3 separate regions of the Homo sapiens genome follow, and regions 2 and 3 are each linked to region 1. The links come from fine-mapping of genetic effects on gene expression. A gene starts in region 1. Each other region holds a variant in brackets. All regions are shown on one strand. Distances are from middle to middle.

Region 1 (5,326 bases):
TCCATCCTGCTCGCCGCCACTTCACATGCTCCATGCTTTCTTTCACTTGGTCGGGGGGCGGTCTCACAGTTTGGGGGAGATGCTAAGCTTACCGTCCTAACCTAGAAACCCCCCGTATACACACACACTCTCCTCTCCCCCATTCCGAAGGCTGGAGCTGGGGATTTCCTGGGGACTTAACCGGCAGGACAGCCCTTTACGGGCTGAGGAGACAAGGAAGGAGGAAGGGAAGGAAGTGGTAGCCATGTGGCTCTGGGTTCTGGGAGCCAGAGGGGCCACCCTCCTACTGCTCCACGGCCCAGTCCTGTCTCCACAGACTGTGTCACCCTCAGGAGGACCCTGGTGTCTCCCAAATGTGCACAGGCAGCACCGCCCCCCAAATGTGCACAGGCAGCACCGTCCATCCCTGGCTTTGAAGGGGGACTTCTCCCACCCATCATCTGGTCTGATCCTCACAAACACCCCAGGAGACAGGCAGGACAGGCGCTGTCATCACTCTCACTAGACGGGGGAGGAAAACGAGGCTCAAAGAGGGGAAGTAGGGCGTAGACGATGGACTCTACAAGATATTTAGCCAGGCCATTTTACACCCAGAGAAACTGAGGCCCCCACAGGGAAGGGACCTGGCCCAGGGTCCCATAGTAAATGAGAAGCAGGCCCTCTGACCTCCACCTCACACCATCTCCCCATCCATTCGGCCAGCTCCTTATTAACCACTGATGGACTAACTTCCTAGTGTCCAGGGGGCAAACGGAACAAGAGCCTGAGGCAAGCATTGGGGTGCCTGCTGCAGCCCTCCTCCCACCCTGCTGTGGCTTCCCTTCCCCACCCTGCCCCCAAGTGGCAGTCCAAGTAGCCATACCCTCCTGTGACGTCAGCGCCCACCAGCCCTGTGTCCAGGGCCAGGGTCCAGGCTGGCCACAGCCCACCAGATTCCAACCAGCCTCTGCCAGGGCGATGGCTGGACAGATGTGGCCCTTCCATCTACCCCAGAGTAATTAAAAACACACCCAGGCCTCTTCCAACGAGAGAGGGGCCAATTTTCTTCCCCTCCAGCACCGCTGACTGCAACCTAAATAGCAATATTTATGCCAAGCTCCCCATAATACTGTAAACATCCCAATGTATAGCGGGCCAACGCATGAGTCATTTCCCCAAAGCCAGAGTTAATAAGTGGTACCTCAGCCATATTCCACAGAGCTCCCGCCAGCAGCCAGGCCCCAGGGCTGCCCTCCACACCCAGGGCCCGTGGCACCCTAGGTGCCCCAGTGGCCCCACTCCGGGAAACCGCAGTCAGCCGCCAAATCCCCCAGGAGCCGAAGGACAGCTGCCTCAGTGCCAGAAACTGTGGCTGCCATCCAGGGACACCCCCCACCCCCTGACTGCGGTCACTAAAGTGCTCATTACCGAAAGAGAAACTGAAGTTGTAGCACAGGGTCCCCCACGACGCCTTTCCCAGAGGCCGCAGCCCCCACGTCTGGTCTGATATGCGTTTTTTCTTAGGCTGCAAGAAGGGAAGGGGCGCCCCACAACCCTAAAGTGGCCTGAGAGGTGCACACAGACATCATCCCTAAGCCCAAGGGAGCAGAACCCTGGAAGGGCTCACGCAGTTTAGGGGCAACAAAACCCAGCTAAGTGAGTGCTGGTTTCAAAGAAAGACCACAGACCTGGGTTCTATTTTTGTCACCCAACGGCCCTGGGTGAGACATCGGACTTTTCAGAACCTCGGTTTCCCTATCTGTTCAAGAGAAGTAGGAATCATACCTACCTGTCTTCCCCGGAAGGTGTATTTTGAGGGATCCAACACGCTGGTGGGCGGGAAAGCACTTTGTAAAGCTTAAAGTACCTTGTCAACTGTGCAGCACGTTGTAAACCACAGAGAGCTGCGTATAGTGCGAAGTACTTCATAAACTGTAAAGTGGTTTGAAAACTGTAAAGTGCAGTACACGTGAGAACCATTATTCACGTTCGCTTCTTGCCCTGCAAGCTCGGCCATTCCTGGTGGACACACCCAGACCGCACTAACTTTCCCTCCAGAGCAAGCTGGCTCGGGAGACCTAGCAACTACCCTTGCCCCCCTGGGGGTCGAGTGGTACCAATACACGAGGCCACGGGGAGAGGGCCCGCGACCCTGGCCAAGGCCAACACATGGCAAGAGCATCTGGTCCGGCCCCGGCGGCAGCTGGAGAGTTCCCGGGGCTCCAGCCGCCACGCTGAGCGCCGCGGCCGCGGGGCGGTGGCCGGCGGGGGTGCCCGGAGACCTTGCGCGGCGGAGAGATGCCCACAGACCCATCCCCCGCGCAGTCCTCTCGGGGAGGGGACCCCATTGTACGCCGCGGGCGATGGGCAGGCACCGACGCGGGGGCTGGCGCGCTCCCTTCCACTCTGCCAGTCCCTGCTCTCCGGGGCGCCGGGCCCCATCTCGGGGGCGCGGGCCGGGAGCCCCCACCCCGGCCGGCCGCGGTGCCTCCCTCCCTCTGCTCCCTGCCAAACTTTCCAGCCCCGACCGAGCGCCGGCGCCCCCCCCGCCCCCCGCCACGGCCGGGCCCGCGCCCCTCCACCCTGTGCGGAGCAAGACCAGGCCGGCGCGAGGCGGCTGCCCGAGCCGGGGGCGGCGAGCGCGCGTGGGCAGCCCCCAGCCCTGGGCGGCGCTCGCCGGGCTGGCTACAAAGCCTCGGCAAGATGGTCCCTTCGCCTCCTCCTGGCACAGTCAATCAGCGCCCGCCGCTCCCCGGGCGCCCGCGGGGCCCGCTCCTCCCGGCGCGGCCGGACACACCTCCCCGCGGCCACCTGCGCCCGGCGCCGGCCCCCGGGCAAACTTTGCGGGCCGCGGAGCGGAGGTGGGCGCCGGCGGCCGCCCGTGCCCGGCCGCTCCCCGCCCCCATCGCCCGCCCGCCCGCCCGCTCGCTCACCTTCCACGGCGGCGAGCAGCGGCAGCAGCAGCAGCGCGGCCCCCAGCCTCCGCAGAGCCATGGCTGCGCTTCCCGGGGCCTCGGGCCGCGGCGCCGCGGGGCCCGGACGGCCCGGGCGGGAGCGCGCGCCCCGGGCTCGGGGGGCCAGGGGGGGCGGCAAGGCGCGGCGCACACACAGCCGCCGCCACCGCGCAGCCAGCAGAATGAGCCATCCAGCCCGGGCAGAACGGGGACCCGGGCTCCGCCAGCGCTGGGCACGGCCCACCTGAGCCGCGGGCGCGGGGGGAGCCTCGCCAGGCCACCGCCCCCCGCGCGCGTCCCGGCCCCCGGCGGCCGCGCGCCGCCGCGAGCCCGGGTCCCCACACCGCGCCCGTAGGGTCACCCGGGGGCAGCGCGGGCGCTGGAGCGCGGCGACCCCGCGTGCCCGGGCCACTGAGACCCCGGGCTCCCCCCGCGCAGCAGTGGTCTCTCCCGGCGCTGTGGCTCCTCCAGATAAAGCAGCGATTTCAGCCCAAATGTTTCTCAATTTTTATTGAATGCTGCAAAGCCGGAGAGCGTCTGGCGCGGCTGACAGGGGCAGGGAGAGCGGACGGAGGGGAGGGCGGGGGAAGGGGCTTCCCAAAGCGGGGGCCGGCACTACCTGTCAGGGCAGGGAGTCCCACCCCCTCGCCTCAGCCCTGCCACCCGGGTCCCTGCGGCTTCGAAAGGGACCGAACTGCAATGAATGGAAAAAAAAAAAAAAGGGTGTGTGTGGGGGGGTGGCATCTGGGAACAAAACAGGCGGCTTTCCCAGGCACCGGGGCTGGGCCGGGGCCTCCGAGTGGGAGACTGGGCCTTGGCGCTACCCGAGGGCCTGGGGTGGGGCTGGGGGGAGGGTGGTCACTCGGCACTGGTGGGCTGGGCCCTTGCAGGCAGACCCCAGGCCTCCCCTCCCTGCCCCGTTGTTCTGAGCTGGCCCGCGAGCCCCTCACTGCAGACTCGTCTATGTCTGTATTAGATTTCTCCTTCTCTGTTGATCTTGCTCCCAGTGCAGTTTGGGGATGGGGTGAAGGAAGTCCATGGGTGAATCTGGGGAAAGCCCCAGCCACCCCCACGCTGTGGAATGGACCTGTCTGTGCAGCCGTGGTTTTGTGCATGGCCGTCCCTTCAGGGAGAACACAACCCTAGCCCCAACCCTGTGGGCCCTGCCCTGCTCTGACAGCCTTCATCACCATCATCATTAACAGACTTTACTGAAGTCTGGATGGTGGGCGGCTGCAGGGGGCCTGCGGCAATCACCCAGGCTGAACCCCTGGCAGTTGGGAGCCCACTCCTGACTGAGGAGACTTCATCAGGAGCTCGGAACTCTGTGGAGTGAGTGGAGGAGCCCAGTGCAGGAGCAGGTGGTTTAAGTCGAAGGCAGTTTAAGTCTATGCTACCCACATCTCCTGTGTCCCTTTGTCCCACATACTATCAAAATGTCCCAGCAATCCCTCCCCTTCAGTCCATACCAAGAAAATGGGGTACCACAGGCTTTGGGAATCCATCTAAGGTTTGGAAAGTTGGGTCGTCTCTTGAAGCTCCAAGAGTCCAGTTGAAATGGGTGTCATCCTGGAAGGCCACCAGGAGGAGGCAGCCTGGGAGGGAGACAGAACAGGAGTGAGCAGGGAGAGAAGAGAAACAGGAGATTTCCCCCTATTAAGCCTACAGACCCCTCACCAGGGTCAAGAGCCAGTGGGGTGGGGCTGGCAGAGCCACTACCGTTCCTATTTGAGTGAGCAGGGAGAGAGGAGAAACGAAGATTCCCCCTTTTAAGTCTACAGACCCCTCACCAGGGTCAAGATCCACTGGGGTGGGGCTAGCCTTTATTTTCAGTTCTTGCCTGTCAGACCTTCCAGGAGACCCAGGGTTTGAGGGACCCCAAGCTTGGCCCATCTTGAGGCAATCCTCCCTCTCCTGGACAGAGCAGCTCTAAGCTCTGGCCCCCTCCAGTGCATCCAGGTGCTAGACACTTCCAAATTCAAGAAGTCATTATTGAGCACCTATTATGTACTGTGCAGATTCAGCTTTTTTGCTTTGTTTCTATTTCCTGGGACCCTTGACTCCACCTACCCAGGGCCAGTGGTTACTTCCTTTTTGTCTCAAAATAGGAAGACCAGTGACTCTGCTTTATTGAGGACATGGTACCAGGCACTAGGCTGGGCTTTGTTTATTTCTTGTCCCCCTTAATCTTTCCTACTCTGTGCACCAGGTGCTGATCTTTTCACATGATGAAACTGAGGACCAGATAAGTAATTTGTCCAAAGTCACATGGCAAATTGGGCTAGGATTCAACCCCATGTCCGTCCGACCCCAGTGCTGACCTCCTTGTACCTTTCACAGAAGCACAGAGCTCAGGGCTCTTCCCACAGGCTATTTCACAGATAAGGAAACTG
Region 2 (5,333 bases), 950 kb after region 1:
TTCCTTTTTTCAACTAATGATATCGTTATATATCACAACATTAAAAGCTTTCCCTACCTTTTTTTAAATTTATTTTTATTTTTATTTTTTTTGAGATAGAGTTTTGTTCTTGTTGCCCAGGCTGGAGTGCAGTGGCACGATCTCGGCTCACTGCACCCTCCCGCCTTCCAGTTTCAAGTGATTTCTCCTGCCTCAGCCTCCTGGGTAGCTGGGATTACAGGCTCCCGCCACCACTCCTGGCGAATTTTTGTATTTTTAGTAGAGATGGGGTTTTACCATGTTGGCCAGGCTGGTCTCGAACTCCTGACTTTGTGATCCGCCCACCTGGGCCTCCCAAAATGCTGGGATTACAGGCGTGAGCCACTGTGCCCGGCCTACCTTTTTATTTTTTGACAGCAGTAGTTTTTGTTGTTTGGTTATATTGTAATTTATTTTGTTACTTCCATATAAATTTCCAGTCTTTTACTGTTATCAGTAATCCTTTAGTGGGTATCCTACAGAAATCTGCAGAACTTTGTCCTGTAATGTTCCTTTATAGCAAAAGAAAACCTAAGCTTATGTTACATTCAGTTGTGTCTCTTTGGTTTCCTTTAATCTGGAACTGTTAGTGAATCTTTCTTTGTATTTCATGACACTGACTTATTTTGTATAAAGTCCCTTGAGTTGGTTTGGTCTGATGTTTCCTCATGATTCAATTAAGGCCATGCATCTTTGGCCAGAACATCACAGAAGTGATTCTGTGTTGTGCATTATACCAGAAGGTGTGTGGTGTCAATTAGATTCATTACTGGGTGTGTTAAATTTAAGCATTTGGTTAAGGTGGTGTCTGTCAAGTTTCTCCACTGAAAGTTATTATCTTTCCCTTTGTAATTAACTTTTTCTGAGATACTTTGAGACATTGTAAATATTGTTATTTCTCCAACTTGCCTACGTTAGCATCCGTGATGATCCTTGCCTCATTCCTTTCTGAATCTGATGTATGCCAAATGGAGATTTTTAATTCTGTCATTCCTTCCACTTTGATAGTTGGTTTTCTTCTAAAGGGAAGAGATTTTTCTTCCATCCATCTCACCATGAAATGATGGATTCTTACTTTATTCAGTAGGTTATAATCCTATTACTCATTTTGTTGCTAAATTTTGTTGCCAAATTTGACCAGTGGGACCTCCCCTTCCAGCCAACTCTTGTGCTCTTTTGACATGTCTCCACCATCTTTCAGTACATCATTTTAGGGCACAGTAAGATGTAGGTTCGTTTTCTAATTTCACTGCCCTGGCCTTGGAATCAGCCAGTTATTTCTCCAAGGAGCACGGGATTCTTTTAGTGGGTAATATTTAGAAGTCAGGATCTGTGTTTCAGAATTATTAACCCATGTCTCTATGGAAAAGAAGCCTACTAATTAGAGTTGGCTGTTTGTTCCTTTTGTCTTTAGCCAGAGGGTACTAGTAAATGAGCTTGATAACTGTTTAAGTTACTTTGGTCAGTCACACCCCCTCCCTCTCCCTCCCCCACTCCTGCCTTCCCTTCAGTCTGGATCTTTTATTTAGTTGAAATATGTTTTCTCTGTTTTGAATTTAGGGTTCCTGTCATCCTTGTTGATTCCTTTTTTTTTTTTTTTTTTTTTTTTGAGACCGTGTCTCTCTCTGTTGCCCAGGCTGGAGTGCAGTGGCACGATCTTGGCTCACTGCAACCTCCGCCTCCTGGGTTCAAGCAATTCTCCTGCATCAGCCTCCAGTCTTCAGCCTGTAGCTGGAGTTACAAACGTGTACCACCACACCTGGCTAATTTTTGTATTTCTAGTAGAGACAGGGTTTCACCATGTTGGCCAGGCTGGTCTCAAAACTCCTAACCTCAAGTGATCCTCCTGCCTTGGCCTCCCAAAGGGCTAGGATTACAGGCGTGAACCACCACGCCTAGCCAGTTGATTTATTTTTGTTTGTGTGCATGCGTGAAGTAGTGTGAGAAACAGTCACATGGTCCCAAATTGTTCATTATATGAAAAGGTACATTTCCTTTTCATTCATTCATTCATTCATTCATTCATTCATTCATTTTTTCCAAGACAGAGTCTTGCTCTGTCGCCCAGGCCAGAGTGCAGTGGTGTAATCTCGGCTCCCTGCAACCTCCGTGTCCTGGGTTCAAGGGATTCTTCTGCCACAACCTCCCAAGTAGCTGGGATTACAGGCCCGCACCGCCACGCCCGGCTAATTTTTGTATTTTTAGTAGAGACAGGGTTTCAGGCTGGTCTC[G/A]AACTCCTGACCTTGTTATCCGCCTGCCTCAGCCTCCCAAAGTGCTGGGATTGCAGGTGTGAGCCACTGTGTCCGGCCGAAAAGGTGTATTTTCTTTTAACCTTATTCCCACTCATGCTCTGTAGGTAACCAATTTCATTAGTCTCTTGTTTTTCCTTTCTGTATTTCTTTTTGTACAAAATGAGCAGAAATATGTACATGTATATTTTCCTTATATATTTCTTACACATAACAGTATACTAGAGATACTCCTTTGCATTTTGCTTTTTTTACTTAATAATGTGTCCTGGATTTATAAATTACCTTATATCTGTTCATAGATATCTTTTTCATGCTGTGTGTGTGTGTGTGTGTGTGTGTGTGTGTGTGTGTGTTTTACAGTTGCATAGTACTCTGCCATATAGATGTACCATATTGTCTATTTTTGGGCATTTGGGTGGCTTCCAATATTTTGCAATTAACAGACAGTGCTGTAATGAATAACCTTATGAGTGAGATTTTGCATTGTTGGAGGTATAGCCTAAGGAACAGTAAATCCTCAGAAATGAGATTGCTAGGTCTAAAGGTAGTTGTCTATGTAGTTTTGTTAGTGACTGCATTTCTACCAGCAGTATATGCATGCTTTCTTCTCCACACCCTCACAAACTGAGTGTCTTATACTTTCTCAGTTTTGCTAATTTATAGATGAGAAGTGGTATCTCATTTTAGTTTTAATTTGTTTGTCTCTCATGAAACTATGGTCTTTTAAAAATTAAAGGTTTTTTTTTTCCCCTTAGACGAAACTGCAAAGGAAATCCGAATTGCTTGGTTGGTATTGGTGAGCATATTTGGTTAGGAGAAATAGATGAAAATAGTTTTCATAACATCGATGATCCCAACTGTGAGAGGAGAAAAAAGGTAAACCATCATTTTTTAAGCGATTGCTATATGCTGTTTTTTGTTTTTGTTTTTGCTTTTGTTTTGGGCCTGTGATCAGAAAACTCTACTGATTTCAGGTAACCTGTGCAGCTTTAAGATAAGCAGTAGAACTTAAGACTCTAAGCCACTTGAATTGGAACACTTCTTAATGATATGCTTTAAAACAGGCAGCTGCGTAATTCAGTAAGCCTTTAAATAATAGTTTTAGTTTGAATGCTGATTCTATGTTTGCTTTAACATTGCATGTTTTATTTTGAAATCTTAACGCCTCTTTAAAGGAGATGGTAATTCAAGGGAACAAACTCATGATGATAGCACTTTGCTTTCTAGGGCTTGTATTTTATATATAATTTTGCTTTTTAAAAATATACATTAAATTTTCTAGACATAAATCTTAGCATTCACGAAATATCCAAGTTTGTTATATATAGATATTTTAATAAAATAATAATTCTTTGTAAGGTCAGGAATTCCCAACCTTATCTTTGGAAAAAGTTGCAGCCAGTTCCCTCTACCACCGCCAATCTTTAAAATCTCTAGAATATAAAGGAAGTTTTCTGCATAAGTTTTACTTTGTCATTCTGCTGAATGCTGGCAGTTTAGAAATACAGAAAACATAAAACCTATATACGCTTGTTCAAAACCGATCTTTTCTAGAATCCACTGTTCTAATTTTAGATTTAAGTGGCTGGAGAAGACGATATGCTAGAGATGAGCAGTGATGCCGTCCGAAGTCTTTTTCACTCCTGTGGTCAACCCAAAATGGGGCTTTCATGAAAATTATGCCCCACCTCCAGCCAAGAGAAACTTAAGGTGGCTATACCATGTTGGTTGTGACGGTCTTACACATTTTTAATCTGAAAATTTAAGAATAATGCTTAGAAATTGGTTGTTTAAAGGAAAATGGGTTTTATAATTATGAATTTTGTATTTTTGTAGAACTCATTTGTGGGCCTGACTAACCTTGGAGCCACTTGTTATGTCAACACATTTCTTCAAGTGTGGTTTCTCAACTTGGAGCTTCGGCAGGCACTCTACTTATGTCCAAGCACTTGTAGTGACTACATGCTGGGAGACGGCATCCAAGAAGAAAAAGGTGGGTGGAAAGGGGTGGGGGAGAGCTCTCTTCCTGAACATTTTTTTAAACTTTTTTTTTTTTTTTTTTTTGAGTCTTCCTCTGTTTCCCAAGCCAGAGTGAAGTGGCGCCATCTCGGTTCACTGCAACGTCTGCCTCCTGGGCTGAAGCGATTCTCCTGCCTCAGCCTCTTGAGAAGCTGGGATTACAGGCGCCCGCCACCACGCCTGGCTAGTTTTTGTATTTTTAGTAGAGACAGCGTTTCACTATGTTGGCCAGGCTAGTCTCGAACTCCTGACCTCAAGTGATGTGGCTGCCTCGGCCTTCCAAAGTGCTGCGACTACAGGTGTGAGCCACTGTGTCTAGCCTAAACTTATTTTATTATTATTATTATTATTTTTTTAAGACAGTTTCACACTTGTTGCCCACGCTCTAGTGCAATGGCACAATCTCGGTTCACCACAACCTCCGCCTCTCAGGTTCAAGCAATTCTCCTGCCTCAGCCTCCCGAGTAGCTGGGATTACAGGCGTGCACCACCACGCCCGGCTAATTTTGTATTTTTAGTAGAGACGGGGTTTCTCCATGTTGGTCAGGCTGGTCTTGAACTCCCGACCTCAGGTGATCCACCCGCCTCGGCTTCCCAGAGTGCTGGGATTACAGGTGTGAGCCACTGTGCCTGGCCTAAACTTATTTTTTTTATAGAGACAGTGTCTTGCTCTGTTGCCCAGGCTGGTCTTGAACTTCTGGCCTTAAGCAGTCCTCCTGTCTCGGTCTCCAAAAGTGCTGGATTACAGGCATGAACCATGGTGCCAGGCCTTGAATAGCTTTTACCAGCCTGCAAAACCTTTGCACCCCAAGGAGTAATATTTTATCTTTATTTTACAGATGGTATATTGACTTGCTGAAAGCCACAATTGGTAGTAAGGATACAAATATTCAGAGTCTGATTAGAAGACAGAAGCTACACAATAATTTGAACAGAAAAGGTTTTTTTTTATTGTTTGTTTGTTTTTTGAGACAAGATCTCACTTTTTCGCCCAGGCTGGTGCGAGCACAGCTCACTGTAGCCTCAACCTCCCAGGCTCAAGCA
Region 3 (5,000 bases), 24 kb before region 1:
GCCCCTAAGTGGAGAATTCTCAACTCTGCGATAAGTTAGTATTTTTTTTATCTTTAAATGGTTTGACCAGGTCTTGCCTCAAGGTAGAGCATGAACTCCAAGACCTCTGCGAGGCTAGGTTGATGTAAGAGCTGCCTTGTTCTGGCCTGAGACCCAGATCCAGTCTCATTCCAGGTTCTACCTAGTTTCAGAGGCATCTGAACAGCCTGTGCATCATGATAATTTCCTCCTACTTCCAAGGTCTTGTGGGAGTGTCATGCTGAGTTGTAAAAGCCTCTAGGATAGAGGGGGAAGTTATTTTCATGGGCAGACAATGTATTCATTCATTCTCTCATTCATAAAACATCAACCCAAGAGCCTGTTGGTAACAGACTCTGTGCTAGGCACTGGAGGCCCAACGATGAATAAGACAAGAAAGTCTCTACACTCCAGTTTAATGGGGGAGGGTGATGTAGACAAAATTAGCCATACCTTGGTGTTATAAGAATTGTTAATCAAGAGCTGAGGGTAAGTACAAAGAAGGATATACCAAGGAGGGGACATTTGAGTTGGGCCTTGAAGGATGAGTAGGAGTTCACTAGGCAGAAGCAAGAAGGGCATTCATTCTAGGCAGCAGCTGGGGCCTGAACAAAGATCTGGGGGCATGGGAGTTTATAACATGTATGTATGAAACCTATAGTTTATGGATGAGAATGACATCCACCTAGAGTTTGTGGGATGACAAGGACAGGCAGAGAAGGCCTCAGGGGCCAGGTCAACGAGCAGCTGTTTGACCTTGATTTTTTTAGATAAGGAGCCCAAGGTCTGAGCAGGAGGGTAATGTGGTCTCAGCTGCAGTTTAGAAGACTCAGTGGTGATGCTTTGTGGGGTTCAGAAGTCACTGAGATGGTCCAGGTGGGGCAGGGGGTAGACTTGAGGTCAGGTGGTAGCTGTAGGAACAGAAAGGCAGGCAGTAGCTGAATGGCCAGGGTGAGAGGGAGGCACAGCTAAAAAGGGCCGTGCTAGCTCTGGCCCTGGTGGTCTCTCCTGAGAACCACAAGGCAGCCAGATTAGAAACGGAAGCACTGGATGACTTGCCCAAGATTCCTCGTCACGCCGATGGCTGGATTCGCAGACACCTGGAGGCCTGGGGGAGTCCCAGGTTCTCCACTGTGTCTTCCCTTCTGACTCCACCCAGAGAGCCATGGCCAAGGTGGCGGCTGATCCGAGCCAATCGGTCTCCCCCAGTCTCCCCTCCTCCCCAGGTCTGACAGGGAGGGGGCCGGCTGAGTCCTGTGTCTCCATTGGCCCAAAGCTCCATTATCCTCCTAGGCAGGGTGACCCCCTGCGGCCGCCCCACAGTGCGCTGGGAAAAAAAGGCTCCTCTCTGACAAGAAAGCCCCATTGCAGGCTGGGCCCGGGGTCTGGGCAGCGCCTTTATCCACAGTGACCCTGCCAGAGTGTCAGCGGCGCAAACATGCCGCGCTGCGGAGGCTGCCCCCACCCTCAAAGGGCCTCGTGCTGAAGCTGTGAAGGGGCCCCCTCCAGGGCCTCTGGGAACCAGACCGCGGCCTGCAGGCCCCACCGAGGCTCCCAGGCTCCTTCCCACCCCCAGGGAACCATGCTTTGGCCAACACAGTGACTGAGGCGGGTCTGTGGGGTGGGGGCTGCTAAACAGAGCCTCGGCTCATGCATTGGGAAGGGGGGCCCCATGGAACTCTTTGTCCAGCCTCCAGAATTATTTGGGAGGAAAGTTGAAGGGGAGAGGCTTTTACGTCTCTGGGCCCAGCACCAGGCCTCATTCCCCACACCAACCAGGCAAGAGGGGCCGCCTTGTCCCCAAACGTTCCCCCATACCAGCCTTATCACTCCTCGCCCAATCCCCTTTCAGGTACAGTCTTGCCAAAGAGGAAAGGGAGGTCTCCTGAGCAGCCTCCTGTAGACCCCCGTGTGTACGATGAGCTCTCTTCCACAGCCCCCCGACTCTGCTTATGACAGCAACAACGATGACCACTACGATCATCTTTATTGAGCACTACCTTTGGGCCAGGGACAGGGCCACATGTCTCTTAGTGCTATTTATCATCCTCATTTTACTAATGGGGAACTGAGGCTCAGAGAGGGAAAAGAGCCTATCGAAAGTCACAGAGCGTGTAGGTGTAAGCCAGGATTTGAACCCAGGTCCCTCAGAGCCCACACTCTTATCCACTGTACAAGATACCTTAGGCTGCTCCGGTCCTGAGGGGTGCACAGGCAGGGGCTCTGCCCTAAGTCTAGTGACCCTACTGACCTCCCAGCCCTCTCCCTCAGTCCTGCTCTCTGGGCCGACTCACTGCCAAGGGCGTCCCAAGTGCCCTATAGGAATCATTAGGCTGTCCCAGGGTGGGAAGAGGATTTCAAGGAAGGCAAATTCCCATGAGTTAAGCCAAATGAGTCAAGCTTGAATTGCAGACTTTCCCATCATGTAGAGCTGAGACAGGCTCTACCCAGGGCCCTCAAATCAGACCCCTGGGAAGTGGGAGAAGGAGGCTCCCTGCTGGGAGTTCAGAGGTTGCTAGAAACCCTGTCCTCAGTAGCTGTTCCTGCTCTCAGGCCTGGGGTAAGCCAGCAGTCTTTTCCAAAGGCAGAAAGTATGGACTGTAAACTTCCTTAGAGGCCCTGGTTCTACTTCTGCT[T/G]CTTCTTCTTCTTCTTTTTTTTTTTTTGATACCGGGTCTCACTCTGTTGTTTAGGCTGCAGTGCAGTGGCATGACCATGACTCACTACAGCCTTGACCTCCTGGGCTCAAGCGATCCTCCCACCTCAGCCTCCCAAGTAGCTGGGACTATAGGCACATGCCACCATGCCTGACTAATTAAAAAAAAATTTAGTAGAGATGGGGTCACACTGTGTTGCCCAAGCTGGTCTCGAACTCCTGGCCTCAAGCAATCCTCCTGCCTCACCCTCCTGCCTCACCCTCCCAAAGTGTGCTGGGATTATAGGAGTGAGCCACCGTACCCAGCAAAGGTCCTTGTTCTTAACAGCAGCCTCAGGAAGATGCTCCCACACCATGCCCCACAGGCCACAGGAGTCGGTAGAGCAGGTTCATAGCCCTGCTGTGCAGCCTTAGTCAGTGTCACCCTCCCTTGAGCCTCAGTCTCCTACCCTGCAGGGGTGTTCTGAGATAATGTATGTAAACCATCAAACACCCTGCCCAGCACAAAGCAGAGGCTCAATAAAACAAAGTTGTATTCATTATCATCAGTACCATGGAGCAACACAACAGAGGCTTGTAATCTGTAAGTCCCCTGAATTTTTTCATAAAAGTATCTGTGTGTCTCCAACTTTCTAGGAGGGGGCAGTTCATAGCCTGTGGCAGCTTCTCAAGGATCTTCAGGACCCCAAAGAAATTAAGAACCACAGCAAAATAATACTGACATTCAGGCCGGGAGTGGTAGCTCATGCCTGTAAATCCCAGTGCTTTGGGAGGCTGAGGCAGGCAGATGCCTGAGGTCAGGAGTTAGAGACCAGCCTGGCCAACATGGTGAAACCCCATCTCTACTAAAAATACAAAAATTAGTCGGGCGCAGTGGTGCACACCTGTAATCCCAGCTATTCGGGAGGCTGAGGCACAAGAATCGCTTGAACCCAGGAGGCAGAGGTTGCAGTGAGCAGAGATTGCGCCACTGCACTTCAGCTTGGGCAATAGAGCGAAACTCAGTCTCAAAAAAAAAAAAAAAAAGAATATTGACATTCTGGTGGTACTTTATTGAGTGTATATATCTCTGGGCTTTGGTTTCTCTGCATGAAGACTGGGGAGCCCTACCCTAACTGTCTCACAAGGATGTTGTGAAGCTCAGGTGAGACTGTGGAGGGGAAAGGATGCTGTGAACCACACTGGGCTGTGCATGGGCTGTGCCGGGGGGTAAGATTTATCCTGCTCCTGCTAAAGAGGCAGCCAGGACCAGCTGCCTGCATGCAGGCTGGGCCACAGAGGCAGCTGCTCCAAAGCCCCCTCACAGTGAGGCCTGATAGAGACATGAGCCCCCTGCCCAAGCCCAGGCTGGCCCTGGGTGGGAGGCCCAGGGCAGAGCTCTGTCCTTGACTGAGAAGCTCCTGACAGGGCCACTCCTGCGGCCTCTGGGCTGGGGTTTTGTTTTTGGGGATCAGGAGGCCAAGAATCCAGTCCCAGGTTCAACTTCTAGCTCTGTCCCCACCAAATCACACCAGGCCAAGAATCCAGTCCCAGGTTCAACTTCTAGCTCCGTCCCCACCAAATCATACCAGGTCAAGAATCCAGTCCCGGGTTCAACTTCTAGCTCTGTCCCCACCAAATCATACCAGGCCAAGAATCCAGTCCCGGGTTCAACTTCTAGCTCTGTCCCCACCAAATCATACCAGCCTGATGTAGTAGCGTGTCATGAGCATGGGCTTTGGACTTAGAGAATCGCGGGTTCAAATCCCATTTCCGCCCCTTACTGGCTATGTGGCCTTGGGCAATTTACTGAACCTCTCAGAGATTCAGTTTTCCTCTAAAACAAAAATAATAATAATCCTGCCTCACAGTGGTGGATTCAGCATGGCAACATGGCACATAATAAGGCCATGGTATATGCTGATTTCCACCGTGCAAAACTACTCCGTAAAATCAATCCTTTAAAATGACTGTTAACATGAATGTTAAAATTGTATAACGCTAATATTTTCATCATTCATATCATCACTCATCACTGTGTGACTTTGCACAGGTCCTTATCCTCTTTGGGTCTTGGTTTCCCCATCTGAAAATAAAGAGGCTGGTTAGAAAGGCAGCCTGGGCCAGCCACAGTGGTTCACGCCTGCAATCCCAGCACTTTGGAAGGCTGAGGTGGGCAAATCACCTGAGGTCAGAAGTTTGAGACCAGCCTGGCCAACACGGTGAAACCCCGTCTCTACTAAAAATACAAAAATCAGCCAGGCGTGGTGGCAGGCACCTGTAATCCCAGCTACTCAGGAGGCTGAGGCAGGAGAATCGCTTGAACTGGGGAGGCAGAGGTTGCAGTGAG

Alleles and levels. Positions count from the first base shown, and alleles are read on the strand shown. Sizes are in standard deviations (SD) of each study's normalised expression. Not every link is listed here.
With allele G in place of T in region 3, the expression in monocytes of the gene that starts at base 3,117 in region 1 is lower (large effect, 1.2 SD a copy in Schmiedel 2018).

The links. PIP is the estimated chance that this variant, and not a neighbour inherited with it, causes the effect.
Region 2: its variant is the best candidate, but not a certain one, in a credible set for the expression of EPHB2 in monocytes after interferon gamma (Fairfax 2014, PIP 0.83).
Region 3: its variant is the best candidate, but not a certain one, in a credible set for the expression of EPHB2 in monocytes (Schmiedel 2018, PIP 0.82).

The regions. Positions count from the first base shown.
Region 1 is chr1:22,708,630-22,713,955 of GRCh38, reverse strand. It overlaps EPHB2 (EPH receptor B2), which reads right to left and starts at 3,117. Exons shown (of 16, transcript NM_017449.5): 1 at 2,913-3,117. The coding sequence starts at 2,973. RefSeq lists an enhancer at 1,824-1,923 and a silencer at 4,145-4,430.
Region 2 is chr1:21,755,476-21,760,808 of GRCh38, reverse strand. USP48 (ubiquitin specific peptidase 48) reads left to right here. Exons shown (of 27, transcript NM_032236.8): 2 at 3,026-3,146; 3 at 4,107-4,263. Among named protein-coding and RNA genes, the nearest start is that of USP48, 25 kb to the left of the region's middle. The variant G/A (reference allele first, on the strand shown) is at 2,250.
Region 3 is chr1:22,733,120-22,738,119 of GRCh38, reverse strand. The region is part of intron 1 of EPHB2 (EPH receptor B2); the gene reads right to left. Among named protein-coding and RNA genes, the nearest start is that of MIR4684, 16 kb to the right of the region's middle. RefSeq lists an enhancer at 830-1,391. The variant T/G (reference allele first, on the strand shown) is at 2,655.